Homo sapiens: one gene and its partners. The protein of the gene in region 4 purifies or fractionates together with the protein of the main gene of each other region. This does not show direct contact. Each region holds a gene or a part of one and is shown on either strand. Other genes may lie near its edges. The genes, in order: SERPINA1, KLK7, SERPINB2 and CA8.

Evidence for each region.
Region 1: the proteins of CA8 (region 4) and SERPINA1 purify together in Homo sapiens (affinity purification with mass spectrometry; 3 studies listed by BioGRID and IntAct, with this or other methods). This does not show direct contact.
Region 2: the proteins of CA8 (region 4) and KLK7 purify together in Homo sapiens (affinity purification with mass spectrometry; 3 studies listed by BioGRID and IntAct, with this or other methods). This does not show direct contact.
Region 3: the proteins of CA8 (region 4) and SERPINB2 purify together in Homo sapiens (affinity purification with mass spectrometry; 3 studies listed by BioGRID and IntAct, with this or other methods). This does not show direct contact.

Annotation. Positions count from the first base shown.
Region 1 is NC_000014.9:94,385,603-94,393,105, reverse strand, and holds the start of SERPINA1 (alpha-1-antitrypsin precursor), read left to right. Parts: upstream 1-4,503; 5' UTR 4,504-4,546; intron 4,547-7,503.
Region 2 is NC_000019.10:50,980,889-50,987,844, reverse strand, and holds the start of KLK7 (kallikrein-7 isoform 1 preproprotein), read left to right. Parts: upstream 1-3,994; intron 3,995-4,029; exon of another isoform or gene 4,030-4,073; intron 4,074-5,387; coding exon of another isoform or gene 5,388-5,445; coding exon 5,446-5,518; intron 5,519-5,930; coding exon 5,931-6,078; intron 6,079-6,956. UniProt on the Homo sapiens protein: May catalyze the degradation of intercellular cohesive structures in the cornified layer of the skin in the continuous shedding of cells from the skin surface. Specific for amino acid residues with aromatic side chains in the P1 position.
Region 3 is NC_000018.10:63,890,689-63,897,721, reverse strand, and holds part of SERPINB2 (plasminogen activator inhibitor 2), read right to left. Parts: exon of another isoform or gene 6,822-7,033; intron 6,287-6,821; 5' UTR 6,278-6,286; coding exon 6,110-6,277; intron 5,102-6,109; exon of another isoform or gene 5,003-5,101; intron 3,270-5,002; exon of another isoform or gene 3,186-3,269; intron 2,459-3,185; coding exon 2,339-2,458; intron 632-2,338; coding exon 503-631; intron 1-502. UniProt on the Homo sapiens protein: Inhibits urokinase-type plasminogen activator. The monocyte derived PAI-2 is distinct from the endothelial cell-derived PAI-1.
Region 4 is NC_000008.11:60,222,383-60,229,415, reverse strand, and holds part of CA8 (carbonic anhydrase-related protein), read left to right. Parts: intron 1-2,480; coding exon 2,481-2,543; intron 2,544-4,830; coding exon 4,831-4,879; intron 4,880-6,654; coding exon 6,655-6,767; intron 6,768-7,033. UniProt on the Homo sapiens protein: Does not have a carbonic anhydrase catalytic activity.

The DNA of each region.
Region 1 (7,503 bases), on a different chromosome or scaffold from region 4:
TATAATGTATAGCTTTGCCTTATTTTTCTCTGTCTGAGTAAGGATAAAGAGTAAAGGCCAGGCACAGTGGCTCACACCTGTAATTCCAGCACTTTGGGAGGCCGAGGCGGGCAGATAACTTGAGGCCAGGAGTTTGAGACCAGCCTGGCCAACATGGTGAAACCCTGTCACTACTAAAAATACAAAAATTAACTGGAATTGGTAGCACATGCCTGTAATGCCAGCTACTCTGGAGGCTGAGGCACGAGAATCGCTCGTAATTCCAGAATTCGAGAGGTGGAGTTTGCAGTAAGCCAAGATTGCGCCACTGTACTCCAGCCTGGGTGACTGAGTGAGACTCTGTCTCAAAAAAAAAAAAAAAAAGAAGAAGCTGTGAGTAGGCCACATAGTTCCAGAAAATGCAGAAATCCCCCCTCCCCTCCCCAACACACAGGAAGTGGCTCAGGAGATTACACACAGAAGGAAAGTGTGTCTGCTGGGGTTTTGCAAGTTGGCTAATTTGAAAGGTGACTGGAGGAGGTGAAAAAATGGTGCAAACTTCATTCATTCATTAAATGAGTTATAAGAAGACAGACACAAGTGTCCATTATGCTAACAGAGCTCTGTGTTAAACACCCCACCAGCATCGCCTCATCTAAGCCTCAGAAGAGCTATGTGGGAAAGAAACTTTTATCCCTATTTTATAGATGAGGAAACCAAGGCTCAGAGAACTGAGGGCCTCCCCCGGATCCAAGTCCACCTAGCTGCAGTCACCCCACATCCTCTGCATGTCACAGGTGCTCAGAAAGATGCTGAAGGCACCTGGCCCTTCACCTTCGGAAAGCCAAAATGAGCACGGCCCCTAAAGAGGGGATTGACAGCCTTTTCTGGAAAAAATGGAAGTTTGAATCTGAGGAGGTGTCCCTCAACAACAGGTGCTGCTCCCCAAATCTGGGGCCAAACGCAGCAGTTGTTCCCCCACTTAGACCCCTGAGACCCATCTATATGGTTTTTCAGAGCCAGGACACATCCCCAAAGGTCATGGCCTTTGGTGGTTAGCATTGACTTGGGGCCCATCACATGCCAGAGGCTGCCCGAAGTGCTTAAATGTTATTATCTCATTCGATCTTCACAGTCCTGATGGAAGTGACTCTTCTTAGAGTCTTCCTATCTCACAGATGAGGAAACCGAGGCACAGAGAGGTTAAGTGGCTTGTCTAAGAGCTCACAAAAAGAGCGATGGAGCTAAGGCTTGGCCCCAGATATTAGATCCCGAACCCACGCCTTAACCAGTGACCTGCACTGACTCTCAAAGAAGGAAGCTGGTGCCTGGGAAGGAGGGTGCATAGTGAGGGTGTGCATGGGGTGTGTGTGTTTGTGGGGTGGCCAGCACTCTCCGGGGGCACTTTGCCAATGAGTTCAGCTCCCATGAAGTCCACTGTTGTTCTCCTGACCAGCCACTCAGTCTTGATTTACTTGGCCCAGGGCCACTGGCACACCTCACCCCCTTACCCGATTCCTTGCTGCAGACCCCAAATCTCGACTCTCACATCCCTATCCAGCCCATACCACGAGGCTCCCATCTCCAGGCAGGGCCCTGTGGTGGGGCAGGGCCTCCCCCAGATGCCCCTTACTCATGACCAGCTCACAGGATCTTCCCATGATGCATTTCCTCTGGGGGGATCAGCCCAGATGCTGCAATAGACAATTGTGGAAGTAACCAGGTGGACAAGACTTTCCCCCTCATGTCCTGGGGTTCCTGGGGGCACAGTATCCTTGTGAATGGCCACTGAGTACTCCCACCCCTCCCACCACAACCCCCGGGATTTTGTCCTGGTGCGTTTTTCCAGATTATCCTAGCCCTTCCTCCCAGGATGGATGTCCAGAGCAGGGCGGGGGCTGAGCCTAGAGCCCTGCCAAAAGAGCAGGACCCCAAATTCTGAGCCCCTTACTTGCCTCACCTGCTCCCACCCATGCTTTCTTCATTCCTCCTCCAAAAGCCCCAGCTCCCCACTGCAATCCCTTCTGCACCCAGCCAGGTCCTATGACACACACCTCCCCAGTGCACACAGACCTGCCCAACTGTGGGGCTGCCCACTGGGCATTTCATAGGTGGCTCAGTCCTCTTCCCTCTGCAGCTGGCCCCAGAAACCTGCCAGTTATTGGTGCCAGGTCTGTGCCAGGAGGGCGAGGCCTGTCATTTCTAGTAATCCTCTGGGCAGTGTGACTGTACCTCTTGCGGCAACTCAAAGGGAGAGGGTGACTTGTCCCGGGTCACAGAGCTGAAAGGGCAGGTACAACAGGTGACATGCCGGGCTGTCTGAGTTTATGAGGGCCCAGTCTTGTGTCTGCCGGGCAATGAGCAAGGCTCCTTCCTGTCCAAGCTCCCCGCCCCTCCCCAGCCTACTGCCTCCACCCGAAGTCTACTTCCTGGGTGGGCAGGAACTGGGCACTGTGCCCAGGGCATGCACTGCCTCCACGCAGCAACCCTCAGAGTCCTGAGCTGAACCAAGAAGGAGGAGGGGGTCGGGCCTCCGAGGAAGGCCTAGCCGCTGCTGCTGCCAGGAATTCCAGGTTGGAGGGGCGGCAACCTCCTGCCAGCCTTCAGGCCACTCTCCTGTGCCTGCCAGAAGAGACAGAGCTTGAGGAGAGCTTGAGGAGAGCAGGAAAGGTGGGACATTGCTGCTGCTGCTCACTCAGTTCCACAGGTGGGAGGGACAGCAGGGCTTAGAGTGGGGGTCATTGTGCAGATGGGAAAACAAAGGCCCAGAGAGGGGAAGAAATGCCCAGGAGCTACCGAGGGCAGGCGACCTCAACCACAGCCCAGTGCTGGAGCTGTGAGTGGATGTAGAGCAGCGGAATATCCATTCAGCCAGCTCAGGGGAAGGACAGGGGCCCTGAAGCCAGGGGATGGAGCTGCAGGGAAGGGAGCTCAGAGAGAAGGGGAGGGGAGTCTGAGCTCAGTTTCCCGCTGCCTGAAAGGAGGGTGGTACCTACTCCCTTCACAGGGTAACTGAATGAGAGACTGCCTGGAGGAAAGCTCTTCAAGTGTGGCCCACCCCACCCCAGTGACACCAGCCCCTGACACGGGGGAGGGAGGGCAGCATCAGGAGGGGCTTTCTGGGCACACCCAGTACCCGTCTCTGAGCTTTCCTTGAACTGTTGCATTTTAATCCTCACAGCAGCTCAACAAGGTACATACCGTCACCATCCCCATTTTACAGATAGGGAAATTGAGGCTCGGAGCGGTTAAACAACTCACCTGAGGCCTCACAGCCAGTAAGTGGGTTCCCTGGTCTGAATGTGTGTGCTGGAGGATCCTGTGGGTCACTCGCCTGGTAGAGCCCCAAGGTGGAGGCATAAATGGGACTGGTGAATGACAGAAGGGGCAAAAATGCACTCATCCATTCACTCTGCAAGTATCTACGGCACGTACGCCAGCTCCCAAGCAGGTTTGCGGGTTGCACAGCGGGCGATGCAATCTGATTTAGGCTTTTAAAGGGATTGCAATCAAGTGGGGCCCCACTAGCCTCAACCCTGTACCTCCCCTCCCCTCCACCCCCAGCAGTCTCCAAAGGCCTCCAACAACCCCAGAGTGGGGGCCATGTATCCAAAGAAACTCCAAGCTGTATACGGATCACACTGGTTTTCCAGGAGCAAAAACAGAAACAGGCCTGAGGCTGGTCAAAATTGAACCTCCTCCTGCTCTGAGCAGCCTGGGGGGCAGACTAAGCAGAGGGCTGTGCAGACCCACATAAAGAGCCTACTGTGTGCCAGGCACTTCACCCGAGGCACTTCACAAGCATGCTTGGGAATGAAACTTCCAACTCTTTGGGATGCAGGTGAAACAGTTCCTGGTTCAGAGAGGTGAAGCGGCCTGCCTGAGGCAGCACAGCTCTTCTTTACAGATGTGCTTCCCCACCTCTACCCTGTCTCACGGCCCCCCATGCCAGCCTGACGGTTGTGTCTGCCTCAGTCATGCTCCATTTTTCCATCGGGACCATCAAGAGGGTGTTTGTGTCTAAGGCTGACTGGGTAACTTTGGATGAGCGGTCTCTCCGCTCTGAGCCTGTTTCCTCATCTGTCAAATGGGCTCTAACCCACTCTGATCTCCCAGGGCGGCAGTAAGTCTTCAGCATCAGGCATTTTGGGGTGACTCAGTAAATGGTAGATCTTGCTACCAGTGGAACAGCCACTAAGGATTCTGCAGTGAGAGCAGAGGGCCAGCTAAGTGGTACTCTCCCAGAGACTGTCTGACTCACGCCACCCCCTCCACCTTGGACACAGGACGCTGTGGTTTCTGAGCCAGGTACAATGACTCCTTTCGGTAAGTGCAGTGGAAGCTGTACACTGCCCAGGCAAAGCGTCCGGGCAGCGTAGGCGGGCGACTCAGATCCCAGCCAGTGGACTTAGCCCCTGTTTGCTCCTCCGATAACTGGGGTGACCTTGGTTAATATTCACCAGCAGCCTCCCCCGTTGCCCCTCTGGATCCACTGCTTAAATACGGACGAGGACAGGGCCCTGTCTCCTCAGCTTCAGGCACCACCACTGACCTGGGACAGTGAATCGTAAGTATGCCTTTCACTGCGAGAGGTTCTGGAGAGGCTTCTGAGCTCCCCATGGCCCAGGCAGGCAGCAGGTCTGGGGCAGGAGGGGGGTTGTGGAGTGGGTATCCGCCTGCTGAGGTGCAGGGCAGATGGAGAGGCTGCAGCTGAGCTCCTATTTTCATAATAACAGCAGCCATGAGGGTTGTGTCCTGTTTCCCAGTCCTGCCCGGTCCCCCCTCGGTACCTCCTGGTGGATACACTGGTTCCTGTAAGCAGAAGTGGATGAGGGTGTCTAGGTCTGCAGTCCTGGCACCCCAGGATGGGGGACACCAGCCAAGATACAGCAACAGCAACAAAGCGCAGCCATTTCTTTCTGTTTGCACAGCTCCTCTGTCTGTCGGGGGCTCCTGTCTGTTGTCTCCTATAAGCCTCACCACCTCTCCTACTGCTTGGGCATGCATCTTTCTCCCCTTCTATAGATGAGGAGGTTAAGGTCCAGAGAGGGGTGGGGAGGAACGCCGGCTCACATTCTCCATCCCCTCCAGATATGACCAGGAACAGACCTGTGCCAGGCCTCAGCCTTACATCAAAATGGGCCTCCCCATGCACCGTGGACCTCTGGGCCCTCCTGTCCCAGTGGAGGACAGGAAGCTGTGAGGGGCACTGTCACCCAGGGCTCAAGCTGGCATTCCTGAATAATCGCTCTGCACCAGGCCACGGCTAAGCTCAGTGCGTGATTAAGCCTCATAACCCTCCAAGGCAGTTACTAGTGTGATTCCCATTTTACAGATGAGGAAGATGGGGACAGAGAGGTGAATAACTGGCCCCAAATCACACACCATCCATAATTCGGGCTCAGGCACCTGGCTCCAGTCCCCAAACTCTTGAACCTGGCCCTAGTGTCACTGTTTCTCTTGGGTCTCAGGCGCTGGATGGGGAACAGGAAACCTGGGCTGGACTTGAGGCCTCTCTGATGCTCGGTGACTTCAGACAGTTGCTCAACCTCTCTGTTCTCTTGGGCAAAACATGATAACCTTTGACTTCTGTCCCCTCCCCTCACCCCACCCGACCTTGATCTCTGAAGTGTTGGAAGGATTTAATTTTTCCTGCACTGAGTTTTGGAGACAGGTCAAAAAGATGACCAAGGCCAAGGTGGCCAGTTTCCTATAGAACGCCTCTAAAAGACCTGCAGCAATAGCAGCAAGAACTGGTATTCTCGAGAACTTGCTGCGCAGCAGGCACTTCTTGGCATTTTATGTGTATTTAATTTCACAATAGCTCTATGACAAAGTCCACCTTTCTCATCTCCAGGAAACTGAGGTTCAGAGAGGTTAAGTAACTTGTCCAAGGTCACACAGCTAATAGCAAGTTGACGTGGAGCAATCTGGCCTCAGAGCCTTTAATTTTAGCCACAGACTGATGCTCCCCTCTTCATTTAGCCAGGCTGCCTCTGAAGTTTTCTGATTCAAGACTTCTGGCTTCAGCTTTGTACACAGAGATGATTCAATGTCAGGTTTTGGAGTGAAATCTGTTTAATCCCAGACAAAACATTTAGGATTACATCTCAGTTTTGTAAGCAAGTAGCTCTGTGATTTTTAGTGAGTTATTTAATGCTCTTTGGGGCTCAATTTTTCTATCTATAAAATAGGGCTAATAATTTGCACCTTATAGGGTAAGCTTTGAGGACAGATTAGATGATACGGTGCCTGTAAAACACCAGGTGTTAGTAAGTGTGGCAATGATGGTGACGCTGAGGCTGATGTTTGCTTAGCATAGGGTTAGGCAGCTGGCAGGCAGTAAACAGTTGGATAATTTAATGGAAAATTTGCCAAACTCAGATGCTGTTCACTGCTGAGCAGGAGCCCCTTCCTGCTGAAATGGTCCTGGGGAGTGCAGCAGGCTCTCCGGGAAGAAATCTACCATCTCTCGGGCAGGAGCTCAACCTGTGTGCAGGTACAGGGAGGGCTTCCTCACCTGGTGCCCACTCATGCATTACGTCAGTTATTCCTCATCCCTGTCCAAAGGATTCTTTTCTCCATTGTACAGCTATGAAGCTAGTGCTCAAAGAAGTGAAGTCATTTACCCCAGGCCCCCTGCCAGTAAGTGACAGGGCCTGGTCACACTTGGGTTTATTTATTGCCCAGTTCAACAGGTTGTTTGACCATAGGCGAGATTCTCTTCCCTGCACCCTGCCGGGTTGCTCTTGGTCCCTTATTTTATGCTCCCGGGTAGAAATGGTGTGAGATTAGGCAGGGAGTGGCTCGCTTCCCTGTCCCTGGCCCCGCAAAGAGTGCTCCCACCTGCCCCGATCCCAGAAATGTCACCATGAAGCCTTCATTCTTTTGGTTTAAAGCTTGGCCTCAGTGTCCGTACACCATGGGGTACTTGGCCAGATGGCGACTTTCTCCTCTCCAGTCGCCCTCCCAGGCACTAGCTTTTAGGAGTGCAGGGTGCTGCCTCTGATAGAAGGGCCAGGAGAGAGCAGGTTTTGGAGTCCTGATGTTATAAGGAACAGCTTGGGAGGCATAATGAACCCAACATGATGCTTGAGACCAATGTCACAGCCCAATTCTGACATTCATCATCTGAGATCTGAGGACACAGCTGTCTCAGTTCATGATCTGAGTGCTGGGAAAGCCAAGACTTGTTCCAGCTTTGTCACTGACTTGCTGTATAGCCTCAACAAGGCCCTGACCCTCTCTGGGCTTCAAACTCTTCACTGTGAAAGGAGGAAACCAGAGTAGGTGATGTGACACCAGGAAAGATGGATGGGTGTGGGGGAATGTGCTCCTCCCAGCTGTCACCCCCTCGCCACCCTCCCTGCACCAGCCTCTCCACCTCCTTTGAGCCCAGAATTCCCCTGTCTAGGAGGGCACCTGTCTCATGCCTAGCCATGGGAATTCTCCATCTGTTTTGCTACATTGAACCCAGATGCCATTCTAACCAAGAATCCTGGCTGGGTGCAGGGGCTCTCGCCT
Region 2 (6,956 bases), on a different chromosome or scaffold from region 4:
AGAGCTAAGACTGGAGGCATGGTTGAGTTTGTTGATTTATGTGGCTTCAAGATATGGAATCAAGTTAGAATCGGATTTGGATTTGTGGCTTGGGATCAGATTTGGGATCTGAGTCAATATTCTGATTGAACATTGAGGTCTTATAAAGATGATTTTGGCTACAAGGACCAAGCAACTCTAACCCAGAAGGGGAATCTGAAAAATCATGACATGAAGAGGCTCCATCGTTGGTTAATTCACCAGCTCAGTGACTTCATCAAAGACCCAGCTGATCCTCACCTCTCTGGTGGGCTACCTGCAGTGTTTTGACTTAGTCCTCTGGTCACTTCCCTCTGTGGTCCCTGGGGTGCTGCCACAGTTCCAGAATTTGCATCCAGAAAAGACACCATCTAGCAGAAGAAAAAAGTCCCCTTTCAGTGCCTCTTTTTGAAAATGAGAAAGTCTTTCCTAGAAGTGCCTCAGTGGTCTTCCCCTCCTCCTCATTGGCCAGAAGAACAGCACATGTCCATTTTCCAACTAATTAAGCAAACGAAATATGGCTTCAATGCTTGGTTCATTGAGGCTTATAGTCCTGATGAGGATAAAGTATTATCCAAACAAAATGGAGCCTCTGATAGAAAGGCAGAAGGAGTGAATGCCTGGGGACACAACAATAATGTCTACTATTATGGGTCAAATGTAGAATCGAGTTGGGGTGCCAGGCGTGGTGGCTCACACATGTAATCCCAGCACTTTGGGAGGCTGAGGAAGGCAGATCACCTGAGGTCGGGAGTTAGGGACCAGCCTGACCTACATGGAGAAACCCCATCTCTACTAAAAAAAAAAAAAAAAAAAATTAGCCAAGTGTGATGGTACATGCCTGTAATCCCAGCTACTCGGGAGGCTGAGTCAGGAGAATTGCTTGAACCTGGAAGGCGGAGATTGCAGTGAGCTGAGATCGCACCACTGCACTCCAGCCTGGGCAATAAGATCAAAACTCCATCTCAAAAACAAAAACAAAACAAAACAAAGCAAAAAAAAGAATTGAGTTGGGGTCAGGATTGAGATAAGTTTTAGGTCCAGGGTGGAGAAATAAATCCCATTTTGGGGATATAATTTAGAGGTTGAGGTCAATTCCAACTTTAGAAGTGTGTCCAACAATGGTTCCTGTCTTACTCAAAATAAAAGCCAAAGACCTTTCAGACCGCATGTCATCAGAGTCCTGTTATATTTCTGGCCTCATCACCTGCCCTCATCTCCTTTGGTCACTCTGTATTGGTCGCAGTGATTTGTCTGCTGAGGCACTTCAGATATGCTCCTTGGCTAACACACCTGCCTGCTCGCTTTGCCTGGAACTCACTACCTTCAAGCAGCCACCTGGATCCCTCCACCATCTCCTTCAAGACTTTGCTCAAATATCACCTTCACGTGGGGTCTTTGCAGCCAACCTTCCTGATATTATAACCTCAGGGATCCTCGAGGGTAGAGGGAATCAGTAACTCCCCAACCCTCTTCCTTGCTTGGATTTTCCCTTATAGCGCTTACAACCACCTAACAAACTCTACATTTTATTTGCTTATTTTTGTGCTGACCTGACAGTACAAAACAAAAACCTCTATGAAGACAGAAATTTTTCTCTGTTTTATCACTGCTGTGTCTCCAAGAGCCTGAATAGTTTCTGGCACAGAGTAGATGCTCAATGGATGCTGTTTGAATGACTACAATGAACAAAGATGAATGTACAAAGAAGTTCATCTCAGCATTATTATAATTAAAACTATCCAAGTGTATTTCAATTTGAGGCAGATGACATGCATCATGATACAAGTATAGTATGGAATATTACACAACCATTATAAAGGAAGGAAAAGTAATCTAAATGTACAAAGAGGGAAAAGTTTTCCTCTTTTTAAAAAATAAATGTTATTGTGTATATTTAAAGTGTACAATATGATCATATGCGATGTATATACATAGGACAATGATTACTATAGCTGAACAAATGAACATGTCCATCATCTCACATAGTTACCCATTTTCCTCCCCTGTGGCAAGAGCAGCTATAATCTACTCATTTAGCAAAAATCCTTGGCTGGGCGCGGTGGCTCAGGCCTATAATCGCAGTACTTTGGGAGGCCGAGGCCGGTGGATCACCTGAGGTCAGGAGTTGGAGAGCAGCCTGACCAACATGGTGAAACCCCATCTCTACTAAAAATACAAAAATTAGTTGGGCATGGTGGTGCACGCCTGTAATCCAGCTACTCAGGACTCTGAGGCAGGAGAATCACTTGAACACGGGGGAGTGGAGGTTGCAGTGAGCCGAGATCGTGCCATTGCACTCCAGCCTGGGTGACAGAGCCAGAGTCCATCAAAAAAAAAAAAAAATAAGAAAGATTCTTCTCTCCTCTATGTGTCCATGCAGTCTCATCATTTAGCTACCACTTGTAAGTAGGAACATGCCATATCTGGTTTTCTGTTCCTGCTTTAGTTTGTAAGGGTAATGGCCTCCAGCTCCATTCACGTCCCTACAAAGGACATGATCGTGTTCTTTTTTATGGCTACGTAGTATTCAATTGTGTATACGTACCACATTTTCTTAATCCAGTCTATCACTGATGGACATTTAGGTTGATTCCCTGTGTTTGCTGTTGTCAATAGTTCTACAATGAACGTACGTGTCCATGTGTCTTTAAACAGAATGATTTATATTCCTTTGGGTACACACACTGGGGCTTATGAGAGGGTGGAGAGTGGGAGGAAGGAGAGGATCAGAAAAAAATAACTAATGGGTACTAGGCTTAATACCTGGGTGATTAAATAATCTGTATAACAAACCCCCATGGCGCACGTTCACCTACGCAACAAACCTGCACATCCTGCACATGTACCCCCGAACTGAAAAGTTAAAAAAAGAAAAATAAATATTTGCTTATAAATTAATAAATGAAGCCCTCAAAAATGTTCTATTAGATAATGTTAAGTACAGACATTTTTGTTATAAATACATAATATACAAAGAAATCTATGTATAACATGATTAAAATGACCATAAGAACATAGATCCTAAACATGGCAAATATTAGTGGGGTGGGGTTAGGGAAAGCGTTGTTTTTAACTTACACCTCTCTGTTAGAGTTGGGAATGGGTTCAGGCGTAATTACAGGCACGACTGGGATCAGCTTGGACAAGTTCCCCCAGGCGGGCCAGAATTAGGATGTAGGGTCTAGGCCACCCCTGAGAGGGGGTGAGGGCAAGAAAATGGCCCCAGAAGCCGGGCGCAGTGGCTCACGCCTGTAATCCCAGCACTTTGCGGGGCCGAGGCGGGCACATCATGAGGTCAGGAGATCGAGACCATTCTGGCCAACATAGTGAAACCCGGTCTCTACTAAAAATACAAAAATTAGCTGGGAGTGGTGGTGCGTGCCTGTAATCCCAGGTACTCGGGAGGCTGAGGCAGGAGAATCACTTGAACCTGGGAGGCGGAGCTGGCAGTGAGCCGAGATCGCGCCACCGCACTCCAGCCTGGCGATAGAGAGAGACTCCATCCAAAAAAAAGAAAGGAAGGGAGGGAGGGAGGAGGGAAGAAAGAAAGAAAACCGCCCCAGAGAAGGACCCGAGCCAGAGCCTATTCTCTGAGCTCAGCGACTGCTTGAATCCCGCTCCTGCCCCTCAGACCCAGCGCACCGGGTCCCTCCCCCGAGAGCAGCCAGGAGGGACTGTGGGACCAGAATGTGCGGGGGCGCAGGAGCTGGGCACCGCCCGTCCTTCGGAGGGAGGGTGGAGAGAGAGTGCAGTGGTGCCAATTGCTCTCGCTGCGTCAGGGTTCCAGATAACCAGAACCGCAAATGCAGGCGGGGGTGTCCCAGAGTCGGCTCCGCCTGCACCCCAGGGCGCTGGGGCCGGGCATGGGGCGGGGGGTGATATAAGAGGACGGCCCAGCAGAGGGATGAAGATTTTGGAGCCCAGCTGTGTGCCAGCCCAAGTCGGAACTTGGATCACATCAGATCCTCTCGAGGTGAGAAGAGGCTTCATCAAGGGTGCACCTGTAGGGGAGAGGGTGATGCTGGCTCCAAGCCTGACTCTGCTCTCGAGAGGTAGGGGCTGCAGCCTAGACTCCCGGTCCTGAGCAGTGAGGGCCTGGAAGTCTGCAATTTGGGGCCTTTTAGGGAAAAACGAACTACAGAGTCAGAAGTTTGGGTTCCACAGGGAAGGGCAAGATCGGAGCCTAGATTCCTGGGTCTCTAGGGATCTGAAGAACAGGAATTTTGGGTCTGAGGGAGGAGGGGCTGGGGTTCTGGACTCCTGGGTCTGAGGGAGGAGGGCCTGGGGGCCTGGACTCCTGGGTCTGAGGGAGGAGGGGCTGGGGGTCTCGACTCCTGGGTCTGAGGGAGGAGGGGCTGGGGGCCTGGACTCCTGGGTCTGAGGGAGGAGGGGCTGGGACCTGGACTCCTAGGTCTGAGGGAGGAGGAGCTGGGGCCTGGACTCCTGGGTCTGAGGGAGGAGGGGCTGGGGCCTGGACTCCTGGGTCTGAGGGAGGAGGGGCTGGGGCCTGGACTCCTGGGTCTGAGGGAGGAGGGGCTGGGGCCTGGACTCCTGGGTCTGAGGGAGGAGGGGCTGGGGCCTGGACTCCTGGGTCTGAGGGAGGAGGGGCTGGGGCCTGGACTCCTGGGCCTGAGGGAGGAGGGACTGAGACCTGGACTCCTAGGTCTGAGGGAGGAGGGACTGGGACCTGGACTCCTGGGTCTGAGGGAGGAGGAGCTGGGGGCCTGGACTCCTGGGTCTGAGGGAGGAGGGGCTGGGGCCTGGACTCCTGGGTCTGAGGGAGGAGGGGTTGGGGCCTGGACTCCTGAGCCTGAGGGAGGAGGGACTTGGACCTGGACTCCTAGGTCTGAGGGAGGAGGAGCTGGGGGCCTGGACTCCTAGGTCTGAGGGAGGCGGGGCTGGGGGCCTGGACTCCTGGGTCTGAGGGAGGAGGGGTTGGGGCCTGGACTCCTGAGCCTGAGGGAGGAGGGACTTGGACCTGGACTCCTAGGTCTGAGGGAGGAGGAGCTGGGGGCCTGGACTCCTAGGTCTGAGGGAGGAGGGGCTGGGGGCCTGGACTCCTGGGTCTGAGGGAGGAAGGTGCTAGGGTCTGGACTCTTGGGTATGAGGGAGGAGGAGGTTAGGGGTCTGGACTTCTGAGTGTAAGGAAGGAGAGGCCAGAGAAAGGAATTTCTGGGTCTGAGGGAGGAGGGGCTGGGGTTCTGGACCCCTAGGTCTGAGGGAGGAGGGGCTGGGGCCTGGACCCCTGGGTCTGAGGGAGGAGGGGCTGGGGCCTGGACTCCTGGGTCTGTGGGGGGAGGGGCTGGGGCCTGGACCCCTGGGTCTGAGTGGGGAGGGGCTGGGCCTGAATGCTTTCTCCTTCTCAGCTCCAGCAGGAGAGGCCCTTCCTCGCCTGGCAGCCCCTGAGCGGCTCAGCAGGGCACCATGGCAAGATCCCTTCTCCTGCCCCTGCAGATCTTACTGCTATCCTTAGCCTTGGAAACTGCAGGAGAAGAAGGTGAAAGCTGGACTGGGAAGTCTGACCTCACCTCAGGGCCCCCACTGACCCTCTCCAAGGAGTCCCTGAGTCAGAACCCTTCCCTCCTCAAACAGCTTCCATCCTGGGAGGACCAGACTGTCGGCTGAAGCCCCCGCTCTTCCTGCTTCTGCTGACTCAGGGGGTCTCTGTCCCCTCCAGGCCCTGCCTCCTGTGCTCAGGGTCTCTCTGTGGTTCCCCAGATGAGATGCGCCTCCTGGGTTTCTGAGTGGGCTCCTTCTGTCTGTCTCTATCCCTATCTCTTGCTTTCTCTGTATTTCTCCACACATTTTCATCTGTCTCTGTCCATCTCTGACTCTGGGAATCCCTGAGGTGCAGCCTCAGCCTTCCCCTAATGCTAGCTACCCACGTGCTCCTCCATGTCTCCATCCAGCCCAGGGTGACAAGATTATTGATGGCGCCCCATGTGCAAGAGGCTCCCACCCATGGCAGGTGGCCCTGCTCAGTGGCAATCAGCTCCACTGCGGAGGCGTCCTGGTCAATGAGCGCTGGGTGCTCACTGCCGCCCACTGCAAGATGAAGTAGGTGCCGCCCAAGTCTCTGCTGGAGGTGCACCAGCGTCTCCAGCTCGCTATGGGGGTGGAAGGGCAGTCTTTCTGTGCCTACGGCTCTATTCTCCTCTCTCTGGGTCTCTGTCCTCCTCTCTCTGGGCCTCTGTACCCCCTCTCCCTGGGGCTCTGTCCCCCTCTCTCCCTGGCTCTCTGTCTCCCTCTCTCTGGGTCTCTGTCCCCCTCTCTCTGGATCTCTGTTCCCCTCTCTCTGTGTCTCTGTCCCCCATTCTCTCTAGGTCTCTGTTCCCCCTCCTCTCTCTCTGGGTCTCTGTCCCTCTCTCTCTGGTCTCTGTCCCCCTCTCTCTCTGGATCTCTGTCCCCCTCTCCCTGGGCCTCTGTACCCCCTCTCCCTGGGGCTCTGTCCCCCTCTCTCTGGGTCTCTGTCTGCCTTTCTCTCTGGATCTCTGTTCCCCTCTGTGTCTCTGTCCCCTTCTCTCTCCGGGTCTCTGTTCCCCCTCCTCTCTTTCTGGGTCTCTGTCCCTCTCTCTCTGGGTCTCTGTCCCCCTCTCTCTCTGGTCTCTGTTCCCCCTCCTCTCTCTCTGGTCTCTGTCCCTCTCTCTCTGGGTCTCTGTCACCCTCTCTCTCTGGGTCTCTGTCACCCTCTCTCTCTGGTCTCTGTTCCCCCTCCTCTCTCTGTGGGTCTCTGTCCCTCTCTCTCTGGGTCTCTGTTCCCCTCTCTCTCTGGTCTCTGTTCCCCCTCCTCTCTCTCTGGATCTCTGTCCCCCTCTCCCTGGGGCTCTGTCCCCCTCTCTCCCTGGCTCTCTGTCTTCCTCTCTCTGGGGCTCTGTCCCCCTCTCTCTCTGGTCTCTGTTCCCCTCTCTCTGGGTCTCTGTCCCTCTCTCTCTGGG
Region 3 (7,033 bases), on a different chromosome or scaffold from region 4:
AAGCAAGAAAATGACAAAGGCTACATAAAATACATACCAAACAAGCCATGGCATAATGGTGAATTATGGTCTTCCCATTGAAATTAGGAGACCTGGGGTAGGGTGGGAGTGGAGGTTGGCTATGGAAGGCAGGTGCTGAAGGGGGAAAGAGTGCAGACCCCTTTGTCCACGCTTACTCCCCAACTCTATCCACCCTCTTGTACTCCTTGCATTATAGAGACAGAATAAAAGGAAAGAGGTTTGACTTGGGGGATAGTGTCTCTGGAAAACAGTTGCATTTGTTTTCCTGATTTATGACTCTGAGATTGGGACATTTGCAATGGGAAGAGGAGGAAGCCCCAGAGGGTACAGGAAGGGCAGCTGTTACGCAAGGCCAGCCCTAGGGAGCTGGTGTGGAATTCCAACTCTGCTTTTATGAACTGTTGAATTGTAGAGAACTGCTTTGAAAGTGACTTCATTACTTGTTTGGGATCCAGCCATTTCAATTACAGGTTTCACTTACTTCCCGGAAGCTCGCAGACTTCTCACCAAACAGCTTATTGACACTTTCCAGTAAATAATTCCCTGTGGATGCATTGATTGCAGAGCTGAGAGAGCGGAAGGATGAATGGATTTTATCTGCAGCTTGTGCCTTGAAAAGAAAGAAGGAATTCTTTATATATAACACAGAACTACTAAACAAGATAGTTCTTAAGCCATGGTAATAGTTTTTGAATACAATCATGAAATGCTATATTAATACATACTTTATTTTTGGTACATTAGAGGAATCTTTGAGAAAATCATTTCGATAAGGATGTGGTACATTAAAACTAATAAGGTGAATTTTAATTTCTTTCCAATTTTGCTCTGTCTATGGATTGGATTTAACCAGGTGACCAACAGCCTAGAAGAAAGGCCCCTTCTCAGTTTCCTAAACTTCAAAGTCTCTAAGGAATTTTTGTTGTATTTATAAGATGGATAAGTTCTGGGGATCTAATGTACAGTATAATGACTATAGTTAATAAGATTGTGTTCATTAATAGTTATAGTTAATAAAACTGTTTACTTGAAATTTGTGAAGAATATATTTTTTAAGTGTCCTCACTATACATACACACATACATACAAATGGTGGGTAATTGTAGTGATGGATGTGCTCATTAATTTGACTGTAATCATTTCACAATGTATAGGTATAGCAAGTCATCACACTGTACATCTTGAACATGTACAATTTTTATTTGTCCATTATACCTCAGTAAAGCTGGCAGGGAGGAAATGTTGCCTTAGTAATGATCTTACAAAGTTCATATAGCTTCTCTAGATACCTATTTTATGGGGCAAACTATGCAGTGGAAAACATGGGTTTTAGAAAACCACAAAAGTGAATGGTTATTTCAGTTCTCAAACTGAAGTTTGTAAGCACCATGTCAGACACAGGGCTTGGTCACAGCAGCAGCCTGTCCTAGGGCAGGGGACAGAGCCCTCCTGATGGACTGCCAGGTACCACAGAACACCTGGCGGAATCTCCACATGATCAGGATCCTGTCCACCTCCTCTAGCCCATAATTCCCTGGGCAATGGGTAGAAGGAGCTTCAGAGTGCCCAGGAAGAGAGCTTTGGGAGATACCTCTTCATAATCTACCTCATAAGCATGACTGTGGAAGTTGGTTGCCAACAGGAGCAGTCTATACTCAGTTTTTATAATTTAACTGGATAGCTGACATTTAAGGAAATGGAGTACTGAGGAAAGGTGTTACTCCCCGAGATAGCTGATTGATAAATAGATAAGATAGACAGATGACAGAGAAGATAGATGATAAATAGATGATTCATAAAATATATAGATAGATAGGATTGATAGATGTATGATAGGTAAGATAGATGAGAGAGATCAATGATAGATGATAGATTAGATAGATAGAAGGAAAGTTACCTGAAGGTCAGTGATTTCTCATGCAATCATTGGGCCCAGCCTTCTGCCATTTCTCAATCAATTGTCAGTCCCTACCCTCTCTCCTCTGGAAATCCTTATCCATACACGTGTATTCTAGGAGTCTCTACTGTGGATTTATGATAAATTACACATACCTCACCAATGACAGAGAGGCATGAGAGAATTTAGAAGTAAATAGGCTTGGCCTAAAACTCATGAAGTCTGGATTCTGTCCTGGCTCGTCTCTCGTTATGGGTATCATCTTAGGACATGTTTTTCTTAATGACTCTGAGTCTTAGTTTTCTTTCTGTGAATGGGGGAGGGTATATTCGCTTCCTTCCCAGTCTGACACTGTGGCTTTAAGACAGGAAGATTGCAAAAATAAACCACAAAAGAAATTTGGACCAGTAAGTCAGATACCTGCAAAATCGCATCAGGATAACTACCCTTCTGGATCTGCTGCATGAACCCACAGCTGGTAAAGTTCTCTGGAGTCATGGGGGTAACTGCATTGGCTCCCACTTCATTAAACTGAAGCACCTGCAATCAGAATTAGAGAAAACGGTTACACTTGCCCACGGATTTACTGAACTTTTAAAACAGATGGCTATCAGGTGGCTCTAAAATGGTCCTAGATCTTTTCCCTTCCCTTATACATGGGGAACAACCATAGATACTCAATACTCTTTCTGTGTAATATAAAAGTATCAGCCAACCTAAATTTCCCTTATAGAAAACAGCATGAGGTGTTTTAGATTAATTTATATCCTGGCCATTTTGGAAAACAAATTGTTATTATGAAATGATTTAAAACCTCTTCCCCAAATTATCTAAATTATATCCAACCAATAAATGGTCTTGAAAAAAAAATGCCAGTATTTTAAAGAAAGTCACAAGATTAACTCAGAACCTTGTGTGTCTCTCTCTTTTCAGTGGCCTTATACACAAAATACTTTCAATCTGTCAAAAACTACAAGCCAGAGTCAGCTAAGGCATAAAACAGGTCATGCAATATTAACAGGGTTCACCTAAAATATTTACACATACCATATTCATACACAGAGAAATTTATGTCCATGTGAGGGACAAGTTGGTCTGATGACACTGTGAATCTCTTCGTATAGTAAGTAGGCAGTTTTGGCTGACACGGGGAAGCTGGCAGCAAGGACTGTCCCCTCTGAAGCTTCCTCAGATCCCCTTCCCACAACACTGCTGCCTGCCCGCCTTGGTCTGCCAGTCTTAATACCTGCAAGCTGGCCCTGCCTCCCAGCCACCCACCCCATCCCACCTCCTTGGGAACCCTTGGTCCTGCAGCACCTCCCTATGGGGTCCCTGAGGAGAAGCTGATCTGGTAAGTGGCTTGATGGTTGGGGTTCTGCTAATGAAGTTAATTAAGGCAGCCTTGTCCAGCAAGTTGGTGAATTTCTGGGCTAGAAGGAGAGGTGTTAGGGTTTGTGAGGTCTTTTTCTGCTCTTTGAGTCATACATCGTAAGTCCTGCCTAGTACTCTCTGAAAAGAAGTGGTGCAACTCCACCCTCACGTAAAAGAAGAAGATTTCCTACGACAGCTTGGCTGGTTTTCCTCTCTTCCAAGGAAATTGACCCTTAAATCAGGGTTCTTTGGGCTAGCACTAAAGCCTTCCTGAATCAGTGTTAAAGTCACTCAGGGAGATGTCCCTGCAAAAGTGGGACTGTGAGCTGCCCCTAGTCCACACAAAGGCCACAGAGAAAATAGTGAGGCAGTTTGGCCTGGATGGGTCTGTTGCCTCACTGTAAGGAAAAGAGCTTATATCCTAATTCCCACAGACCTATGCCATCCAGGAGCTTATATCTTTTATGTATTCTTTTCTTTCACTACAAATGTACCACTTCTAACAGCTACAGCAATTCTCAACTGTGTGGCCTCTTCTTGCCCTGATTCCCTCATCTGTAAAATGAGTACGGTAATCATCGTACCTACCTCATAATATTTTGTCTTATGTGAGTAAATTTATAAGAAGTTCTTAGAAAGATGCCTGGCTAAGGCACTAATAAGTATTGGTTGTTATTATAGCAACTGCTACTAAGTGCCTTACATAGTACCTCTAATCTTCACAACTTTCTTGCATGCTACACATTTTTATTCCCATTTTGTAGATGAGAAAACTGAGATGCAAATGGTTTCAATGTCCTCACACACATGTAGTAAGGAACAAAGCCATGACTCAAACACAGATACGTCTGTCCCCAAAGTCTGTGCTGCTTTCTCCAGCCAATAAATGTCTTTTTCTTTTTATCTGGGAAGCAATCATATTAACATTTGAATTTCAAAATCTACACATGCAACAGAGTTGTCAAAAGACGATATATATAGAGTCTCAAAAAAAAAAAGACTATATAGAATCCTCGCATAGTCCCAAAGGCTTAAAGCACTTCTTAGACACAGAAAAGCTGTCTTGTGTCCAGAGCAATCAGTTTATTTTCCTCTAGTACCAAAATCAAGATTTTTACTTTAACAACCCAGAGCACTTCATTTAGCATTTGCTCCCAAAATATATTGCTACTGATTCCTTTACATTTAAAAAACAAAAAAACCTAGGCCGGGTGCACTGGCTCACGCCTATAATCCCAGCACTTTGGGAGGCCGAGGCAGGTGGATCACAAGGTCAGGAGTTTGAGACCAGCCTGGCCAAAATGGTGAAACCCCATCTCTACTAATACAAAAATTAGATGGGCATCGTGGCAGGCGCCTGTAATCCCAGCTACTCGGGAGGCTGAGGCAGGAGAATGGCTTGAACCTGGGAGTTGGAGGTTGTAGTGAGCCAAGATCGCACCACTGCACTCCAGCCTGGGTGATAGGGCGAGACTCCATCTCAAAAAAAAGAAAGGAAAAAAGAAAAAAACCTAAGACCTGATGTTTCTAAAGCTTTTGTGCCAATTTACTATCTTTATTCTTTCAAGGCAAAAAATAAAAAATAATGGGGAAAGAATATTGCAAAAGACTACTTGTGTCAGGGAGTTGAGCAATTGAGTTTTGTTGTAAGTCTCAATGTTTAAACTGTCACAAACACAGAGATTGATTCACCCATCCCTTGTCTTCCTGCAGCAATATTGGCCAATGCTCTCTCTGTGAAACTTCAAACTTCAAATGAGGCCCACCTTACATGGGTCACCATGTGCATGGAAAGAATGTATTTACACTCAGGTACATTCTCGTGGGAAACTGGAAACCAGCCGGCGGCATCTTGGTGTGACTGCATGCACAATGCATGCGTGTCCTTAAAGCATTTAATGTTAATGTTTGTATGTGTGAATGCAAAGGAATTTTAATGATATCATGGCCACATCGAGGTCACTAACCTTGGAAGTAACATGATCACAAGAATTTTGTATGTGCTGAGTGACTATTACAGTAACGATTGCAGTGTATAATTGAAGTAGTCCGGCATAATTTCAAGGGCCCAGACTCCGTGGAAAGAGTTTCCTGACTGAGTCCACGTCCATTCACCAAGGAAGGCAGGCAGTGGCCTTGCAGAAATCCCTCACAATGATGTTGTGCATCCCATCTACCTTGGTTTTCAGGGCTGGCCATAATAATGCCAGGTCTCATTCTGCTACCGTGACCTCACAGGCATGATCTTCTGCAGCTACAACACTATCCATGCATCCTGTGGGTATAGTGAGCACCACCCTGGTATGTTTTTTTTTTTTTCCCTTTGTGATACTCTCTTAACATTATTAGAAGGAATTCTTCATAGGAATAGGGAACAAACACCACAGTGGCACAGTAATGGGAAGGAGCCCAGGCTAGGAGTTAGGAGACAGTGGGGGCTTCTCTGACACCACCAGGGCTCTCATCTGTAAAATGATATCTGTCTTAAAACTGAATGAGATAATGGGTACAAAACACTAACTTTGAAAAATAAGAATATTATATTATTAAAATATAAGATGTGGTCACTCATAACTGTGTCCAGCCTTGCAGGCTATTCAACTCCCATATGCCTTCAACAGCTACAGTTGAGGGATTCGGGGGCTTGGCTGTCTTATAGATTTGAATCTAAGGAATTTGTGTTGTAAGGATCAGTGCTTCATTACCTGTGATGATTGCTGACCTCCTGAGTTAAAATGTCTTTAGCATAAAACAAGAGCAGTTCTCCAATTCCATTCAGGAACTACTCGGCCCAAATGTGGAGCTTCAGCTCAAACTCACCTTGGCCATCTGGTCTTCGGTGCTGCCCCTGGAGCCCATGTAGACCATGGCCATGGTGGACGAGATGCTCCATGGGGAGAGGAAGAGGTTCTGGGTGGGGCTTGCTTTTGCCAGATGCTTGAATAAATTGAGGGCAAAGAGTGTGTTTGCCACACAAAGATCCTCCATTGTTTCAATCTAGAAGCAAAGAGAGGAAGAAAAAAACAGCTCTGAAACATAAGGTAACATTTTGGGTGAGGTCAGCAACAGTAGGACAGGCTGCATTCTGTGTAGGGACAGATTCCCTGTCTGTTCTTCCTCATGGAACAACATGAGGCAGGTCAGGGACAGCTTCATGGACATACCACCTGTGCAGCCGTAAAAAGCCCCTTGTTTAGCCAAATGCCCTCCTATCGCCATCTTGAAATTCTTGATAATTTTAAACAAAAGGCCCACATTTTCATTGTGCACCAGACGCTGTAAATTACATAGCCAGTCCTGAGATACATGAAGTGTTTTGTATGATGAGCAGCGACACTTTGTGGCATTCCATAGAATAACAATGACAATATATAGGGACAGGAGTAGGAATTGAAGCCAGATAGGCAGACCCTAGGATCATGCTCTCAACTTCTATGCTGCCCCCACAAGCACAACGCACACATCCACACCACACACACTGCCACACAGGAAGATATACACATATTGAAATATATGCCACCTGCATACATACCTTGTTGCATCTGGTAAGACGGTCAATCTTCTTTCTGCTTTCCTGCTTCTAAAGTGACTTTGACTCATTGTTTGAAGGTTTGGAGTTTCACCCAGCCCCTATCCCAGAACCCCTTCCCTATATGCACCACACATACCACAGCCTTACTAAAAAAGACTTCCTATACTGGGGTGTTCATTACTGGGAGGACTAGAAGACCCCCTTCTTCTGCC
Region 4 (7,033 bases):
AGCACGTGGGTCAGAGTTCCACCCTGAAGGGAGCAAGAGTGCACTGACCATGGACCCCAGTCTGTCTCCCTGGGGGACTGCATGGCGTCCACTTGAAAGGCCTGCAAAAGAGCTGTGCCCTTGGGCAGACTCGAAGGGTTCAGGTAGATCAGGAAATGGTGGGAGATGTTGGCAGAAATGCAGAGTTGTTCTGTTCTAGAGGGTGCAGTGGAAGATAAGGAGAGATTGAGTTAGAAGTAAAAAACAAAAAAAAAACAGGTGGTTCAGGGCTGAGATGCCAGGAAAGGAGAACGGACCAAAGTGGTTTGCATTTCCAGTGGTGGCGAAAGACAGCAAAGGTGAGAGGTGAGAAATGAGTTGTTCTCAAGGTTCCTGGTGGACTCTTGGTACCAGGTTGTGTTATCTGAACAGCTGCTTGCACGGTTTTAGCAGCTGGGGTGTGGAGATTATCATCAGTACTTGCTTTTTGCTGGTCATCATTTCTTCATACACAAATTTGGCAAGGAAGGAAAAGAAAGAGATGGCATAATAGCAGAGTTTATAGAATTTGCAAGATATGAGGTTTTGCCCATAAAGTAGAGTCTTTATAGATAGAAGGAGCTAGTAATAGTCGTTAAGAGCTACTATATGGAAAAACTATATTTGATGCTGTAGGGCATCCAGATTAAGAATAATAATGGACATTAAGTGAATTATGATGACCCAAGCCTGTTCCACAGTCTTTGTTTGATTTAATCTTATCTTCAACCCTATCATTTTTATCCTCTCCAGCAAACAGCTGAGGAAGCGGAAGGATGTAGAGGTTAACTACACTTGCTTAAGGCCACACAGCTAAGAGGTGGCAGAGTCAGGATTGGAATCCAGGCAGTCCAGTGCAAAGTGAGCCTGTTCCTGAGCACCACATTGAGTGGCCTTAGGGTTCATATGTGGACTCTTCAAAGAGTTTACAACCCAACAGGAGATGCCTGAGATGAAAACAGACCCCAAGTGCAGACGTAGGCCTCCCAGTGCTATAGTATGGTTAAACCAGTAAGACAAAAGAGAAGTCCATTTCTCCTGAAGAATGGGTAATGATTTCTGCCTAAAATTTCAGGCTGCTGCCACAGGTACATATGCATTAGGTTTTAAATGTTTTTTTGTTTTTAACTTTACAAAATTTATTTTCTGTTTTTAGAGCCTATCTCGGGAATAATTGTAGACTCTTGGAAAGTAGTTCACGTCTTGATTGTTTAGAGCTGACTGGCCTATCTTAGGTAGAGCGTTTCTTGTCTCTCTCCTCTCCCTTTGGATGCTCTTTCATCTGCATGTTTTGCAGTTAGTTAACATTGGGAGAAACAGAGAATGTAAACATATCTACAGCTACTCTGGCTTCTCTTAGGTCATTCTCCAAATATCTATGTGGAAGGAGAAAAACTGACAAAAGCAATGATTGTTTATTTGAGGTTCTAAATGACCTCCATTACTCTCCTCCATTATCATGGACCACTGGAAATTGGTCAGATTTCACTTAAAAGTTTTAAAGCCAAAGTCAAGAATATTAAATGTTAGAATTTTTTTGTCTCCATTTTTTGGGAGCATTTTATACACTAATAATATATAGTGATATGTTTTTAAAAAGAAGGCTATAAAAAGCACATTATTATTTATTTAAGAATAGAAGGGTAGTTATAAAATTATGTCTAGAAGTAATCAAGAAAGGTCTTGATTTTGGTGAATTTAACATACAAAATCACACACCTGCTTTTCTAAGTTAATATAATTTTTCAGTATTGTTAAAATCTTTATAGCAATGATCTATAAATGCCAGAGTTAAACATGGAAGGGTTTGAACATGTACTGAGTAGTTTTAATTCAAAAATATCCTTGATATTTTTATATTTAACAGTATTTTGTAATTTGATATACTACATATAGCAAAGTGAGTGATTCCTATACACAGTAAAGAGAATTTAGAATGAGTTCTTGGACATTTACGTAACTAATACTTTATTATACTAGGTTTGTCACAACTTTAATTACCTTTAGTAGACATTGACCTAGTTATTAATAAAAGGCCATTTAATTATTCCTCAAAAAGGACATTCAGATGGACTAGAACCGAGTTCTGTTAGTTTTTTTTTTTTGAGACAGAGTCTTGCTGTGTCATCCAGGCTGGAGTGCAGTGGCATGATCTTGGCTCACTGCAACCTCTCCGCCTCCTGGGTTCAAGCGATTCTTCTTCCTCACCCTCCTGAGTAGCTGGGACTTCAGGGGTGTGCCACCATGCCCAGCTAATTTTTTGCATTTTTAGTAGAGACAGGGTTTCACTGTGGTAGCCAGGATGGCCTCGATCTCCTAACCTTGTGATCCACCCAACTCGGCCTCCCAAAGTGCTGGGGTTACAGGCATGAGCCACCACACTCAGCCCTATTAGTTTTTTTTTAGTTAAAGCTAAACACTGAAAAATGTTGTGGTTGTGGTTTATGCTTTATGTTTTTCAGATAGGAAAGGAACATGTTGGCTTGAAGGCTGTGACTGAAATCCTCCAAGATATTCAGTATAAGGTAAGTCATTATTTAAAATAATATAGAAATACTGGTTGTGTAGGAGCTCCCTGTGACCACCTGCGGGCTCGATGCTGTGTTAGAAGGACTCACAGATCTCAGAAAAGCTGCTGTCCTTGTGGTTATGGTTTATTACAGTGAAAAGAAATAGGTCAAAAAGCAGAGGGAAAAGGCGCATGGAATGAAGTCCAGGGGAAACCAGGCACAAGCTTCCAGGTGTCCCCTCCCAGTGGAGTCACTTGAGGATGCCCCTAATTCTCCTAGCAATGATGTGTCACAACATGTGTGAAGTGTTGACAACTACGGAAGCTCACTCTAGCCTTAGTGTCCAGAGATTTATTAGGGGTCAATCATGCAAGCACTAAACGCATGCAACATAGCTGACCTCAGCTACTCACTCTCTAGCAGCAGCCGTCTCCCTGCCCTCTTCGCCATAAGTCACATTGTCAGCATCAGCTTATCTGTTCCAATTGGTACAGTATGTCTCAAGGCCTCAGACATGTAACAACAGGAGTTCACCATAAATACAGGATGGCCCAAGGCTGCAGGCACACAGAAACAGTCTTATCAGGTAGAATATTCCAAGCTCAGAGGTTATATCCCAGGAGCAAAGAGTTAGTCCTGAAGACAGGCCTTTATATGGGATGTGCAGGGTTTGAGCAACTCAGGCTTGCTGAGTTAACCCTTTCCTACCTGCATGCTATAGGAAAGTTGTATAAATGAAACAAATAAAAATTTGGGGAATCATATTTCAAAGTATTTATGTTAAATAAATTTAAAAAAAGAAAACAAGTACACATATGTGGTAAGATAATATCCAAGAGAAGGTGATCCACATGACCCTGCCATGATATGGCCTAGCATTGCTAGGAAGCCAATGCCACCACCACGCCCAGCTAATTTTTGTATTTTTAGTAGAGACAGGGTTTCACCATGTTGGCCAGGGTGGTCTTGATCTCTTGACCTCATGATCCACCCACCTCGGCCTTGCAAAGTGCTGGGATTACAGGCGTGAGCCACCATGCCTGGCCCAATGCCAGTCTCTCTTATAAGCAGTGCCTTCTTGGCTCACACTTAGCTGAATGTGAGTGGCCTTGGGGAGGGGAAGTAGTCTAGTCTTGTAGGGCTGCTGGAGATACAGAGCAGAAATTGAACTTGTTTAATTACAGAGGATCCAGAGACCCAAAGCCAGTTTTAAGAAAGATCAATTTGGGAATCAAGTTTGATTAGCTTTATACTAGCACAGCCCAGGGTATCCTGAACCAGGCAGAACCTCCACTGAAGATCTCCTGAGTAGGTTTGGAAGGAACCCAGCTTCCAAGGGATGCCCAGTCCAGATAAAAAAAGCTGATAAAAAGACAATAAGGGCACATTTTGACTTATATTTGTACAACTGCAGTGGACTGAGAAAATTTCCTTTATTTCATCATCTAATAGGACACCAGTCATTATGGAATTCAGGGGGATCGGGGAGGCAAGTAAGCTAGATTCTTTAATGTTTGAAATAGTCCCAGGGAGTCAGGAAGGGACTTGGAGGTTATGCAATAACTTTCCCTATTGCATCTGTATCAATAGAGAAAAATCTTTTAAGAAACATCTGAGTCACATGACAGGACTATTTTCCTCTAAAGTCTAAGCAATTTAAATGACATGATTTAAAATGATGATCTTAAATGTGAATTGTTGAATAAGAGCACAAATGATTCCCTTGAAATTTGTATCTAGCTTTGATAAACACTGATCGGAACAGAATATTTCCATCTATATCAGATCTCCCTTTCCAGATGAGGAGAGCATCTAGCATAGATCCCAGAGCTGAGTTACCAAATCCAAATAGGACAAGACAGGAAGTTGCAAGCCTGGTTGTAATGCCGGAAAGGTTAGGAGCTGAAATGAAAGCAAGCAGGAGGAAAGGCATTTTGAAAATTCCCCCATCCAGGGTTCAGGCATTTTACAATGAGAATTTAGCCCAAATCTCTGTTATGAATGTGCTCAGAGCAGAAAAGGTAACTGACATGGGGCAGATGGGGCACCAAGTGTAGGTTCCACACCAGGACTTACAGGGAGAATTGAACTGTGGTAGCAAAGAAAATAGCCATAGAATTAGAGCAGGAACCAGACAATGTTACTCCAATGAGAAGGTGGAAGGAGATACCCACAAGTCTGTGGGACCTGATGAGGCCATTCAGAAAAGACTTCATTCTAATTTTTTAGTTCTAATAGATTTTTTATTCTAAAATCTAGAAATATTACATTAACATTGGGTAAATATTTTTTTCTTTTTCAGGGGAAGTCCAAAACAATACCTTGCTTTAATCCTAACACTTTATTACCAGGTGAGTATTTACCTGATTGCATAAAATGAATTTTAACTGTGGCTATAGTCACATTGTTTTCTTCAGACTATGTAAAACTATATATTGTTAATTAATAAAACTTATTTGCAATTTGTATTCTGTTTAGCAGATACCATTTCCAGATTACTCTAAATATGGAAGTAAACCTTTTGAAATAATAAAGAGACACTTTGCCACTAGTTCCATTGATCCATGAAGAGCTTTCGTAGGATTGTCATTTGTAAAAATTGCTACCTCTGTGTAAAGCATCAGTATAATAAAATAACTTTGGCTGGGTGTGGTGGCTCATGCCTGTAATCCCAGCTACTCAGGAGGCTGAAGCAGGAGAATCGCTTGAACCCAGGAGGTGGAGGTTGCAGTGAGCCGAGATTACGTGACTGCACTCCAGCCTGGGTGACAAAGTGAAACTCTGTCTCAAACAAACAAACGAACAAACAAAGAAAAAACCTTCATGTACTTCTAAGATTGATCAGTGGAGTTCTTAATCTTTAGAGTAAAATAAACTTTGTATCTAATTTTATAAGGTTACCTCTCTGCAGTAATACTATTATTATGTATTATTCCACTTGTATTTCTGTACAGATAACAATTATACATTAAGTACTCAGAATATGATTTAAAGGTTGTTGTATATAAAATTTTGATCTTCACATTTCTCTGCCCAAATTATGTGCTGTCCCTTAGTGTTTTAAACAAAACCAGTTGATGCATTGTATCTTCTATTTTCTACATTTAATTGCTCTACAACAAACCAATTTCTATCGTATGTTAACCATTTATCCATCATATTAGTCATAAATTCCTCTAATGCAGAGCTAAAGGATTTCATAAGAATGACTCATTTTGTTTTATTGTAATATGATTTTAGTATTTTGCTGTTGCAGAAGCAGTATAGTGGTAGCTAGAACTGAATGGTTAAAAATACAGGCTTTCAGACAGACATGATCATACCTATGTAATCCCAACACTTTGGGAGACTGATGCAAGAGGATTGCTTGAGGCCAAGAGTTTGAGACTAGCCATAGCCAGACCTTGCTCTCAAAAAAAGAAGAAATAATTGCTGGCTGTGGTGGTGTGCACCCATAGTCCCAGCTGCTTGGGAGGCTGAGGTGAGATGATCGCTTGAGCCCAGGAGTTTGAGGCTGCAGTGATTCATGGTCACACCACCACACTCCAGCAGCCTGGGTGATAGAGCCAGACCCTGTCTCTTAAGAAAAAAAAAATACAGGTTATGAAGCCAGATTGCCTGAATTTGAATCCTGGCTCTGCCAGTGATTATTAGCTGAGTGACCTCAGGCAAACTACTACTCTTTTGAGATTCTGTTTCCCCATCTGAAATATAACATTAATATTACTACCTATCTCACTGGTTTGTTGTGAAGGTTAAATGAATTAAAGTAAATTGCTGGCACGTCATAAGCATTCAATAAATATTAGATATGAAATAGGTAAATTCTTTAATAAAGTGAAAAAACCCAAAATATAGATACACTTCTAAAGTGATTAAACTTGACAGGTATCTATAGTAATCCATTGATAGAAATCACTGTAAATAATAGAGAATTCATCATGCTTTTTATCAATTATTTTCTCCACAATGAGTAGTGTAAGACTGTGGGGCTCTAGTTTAAAAATGACATCCATCTTAGAAGCATCATTTGGACAGTTTGTAATTTTGAAAATTGTTGTTGGAGTCATCAGGATTGTTATTAATTCACTTGCCTTTTCCATTACATGTCCACGTGGCTGTGCAGACCCTCTGCTGCGGGATTACTGGGTGTATGAAGGCTCTCTCACCATCCCACCTTGCAGTGAAGGTGTCACCTGGATATTATTCCGATACCCTTTAACTATATCCCAGCTACAGGTGAGTGTGCTACTTTGAATCTTTCAGAGTGAAGTTCTGAGTTAAACATTGTTTCTGAGAAAGGAAAATGTCTGTTTTGTGTTTTAGCTTCCTGTAGATCAGTCATACCTTTCCAGATGAAAGTTAAATGGCTTGAACTAGTGAAAGTGATTGAAAGGTCAAGGATGGACAGAATCCAACACTAATTTATGGTCTATATTTTAAAAGTTAGTCTTTAGAGAGTTAATAGAAATCACTGAAAGAGCAAAACTTTTTATTAGTCTAGT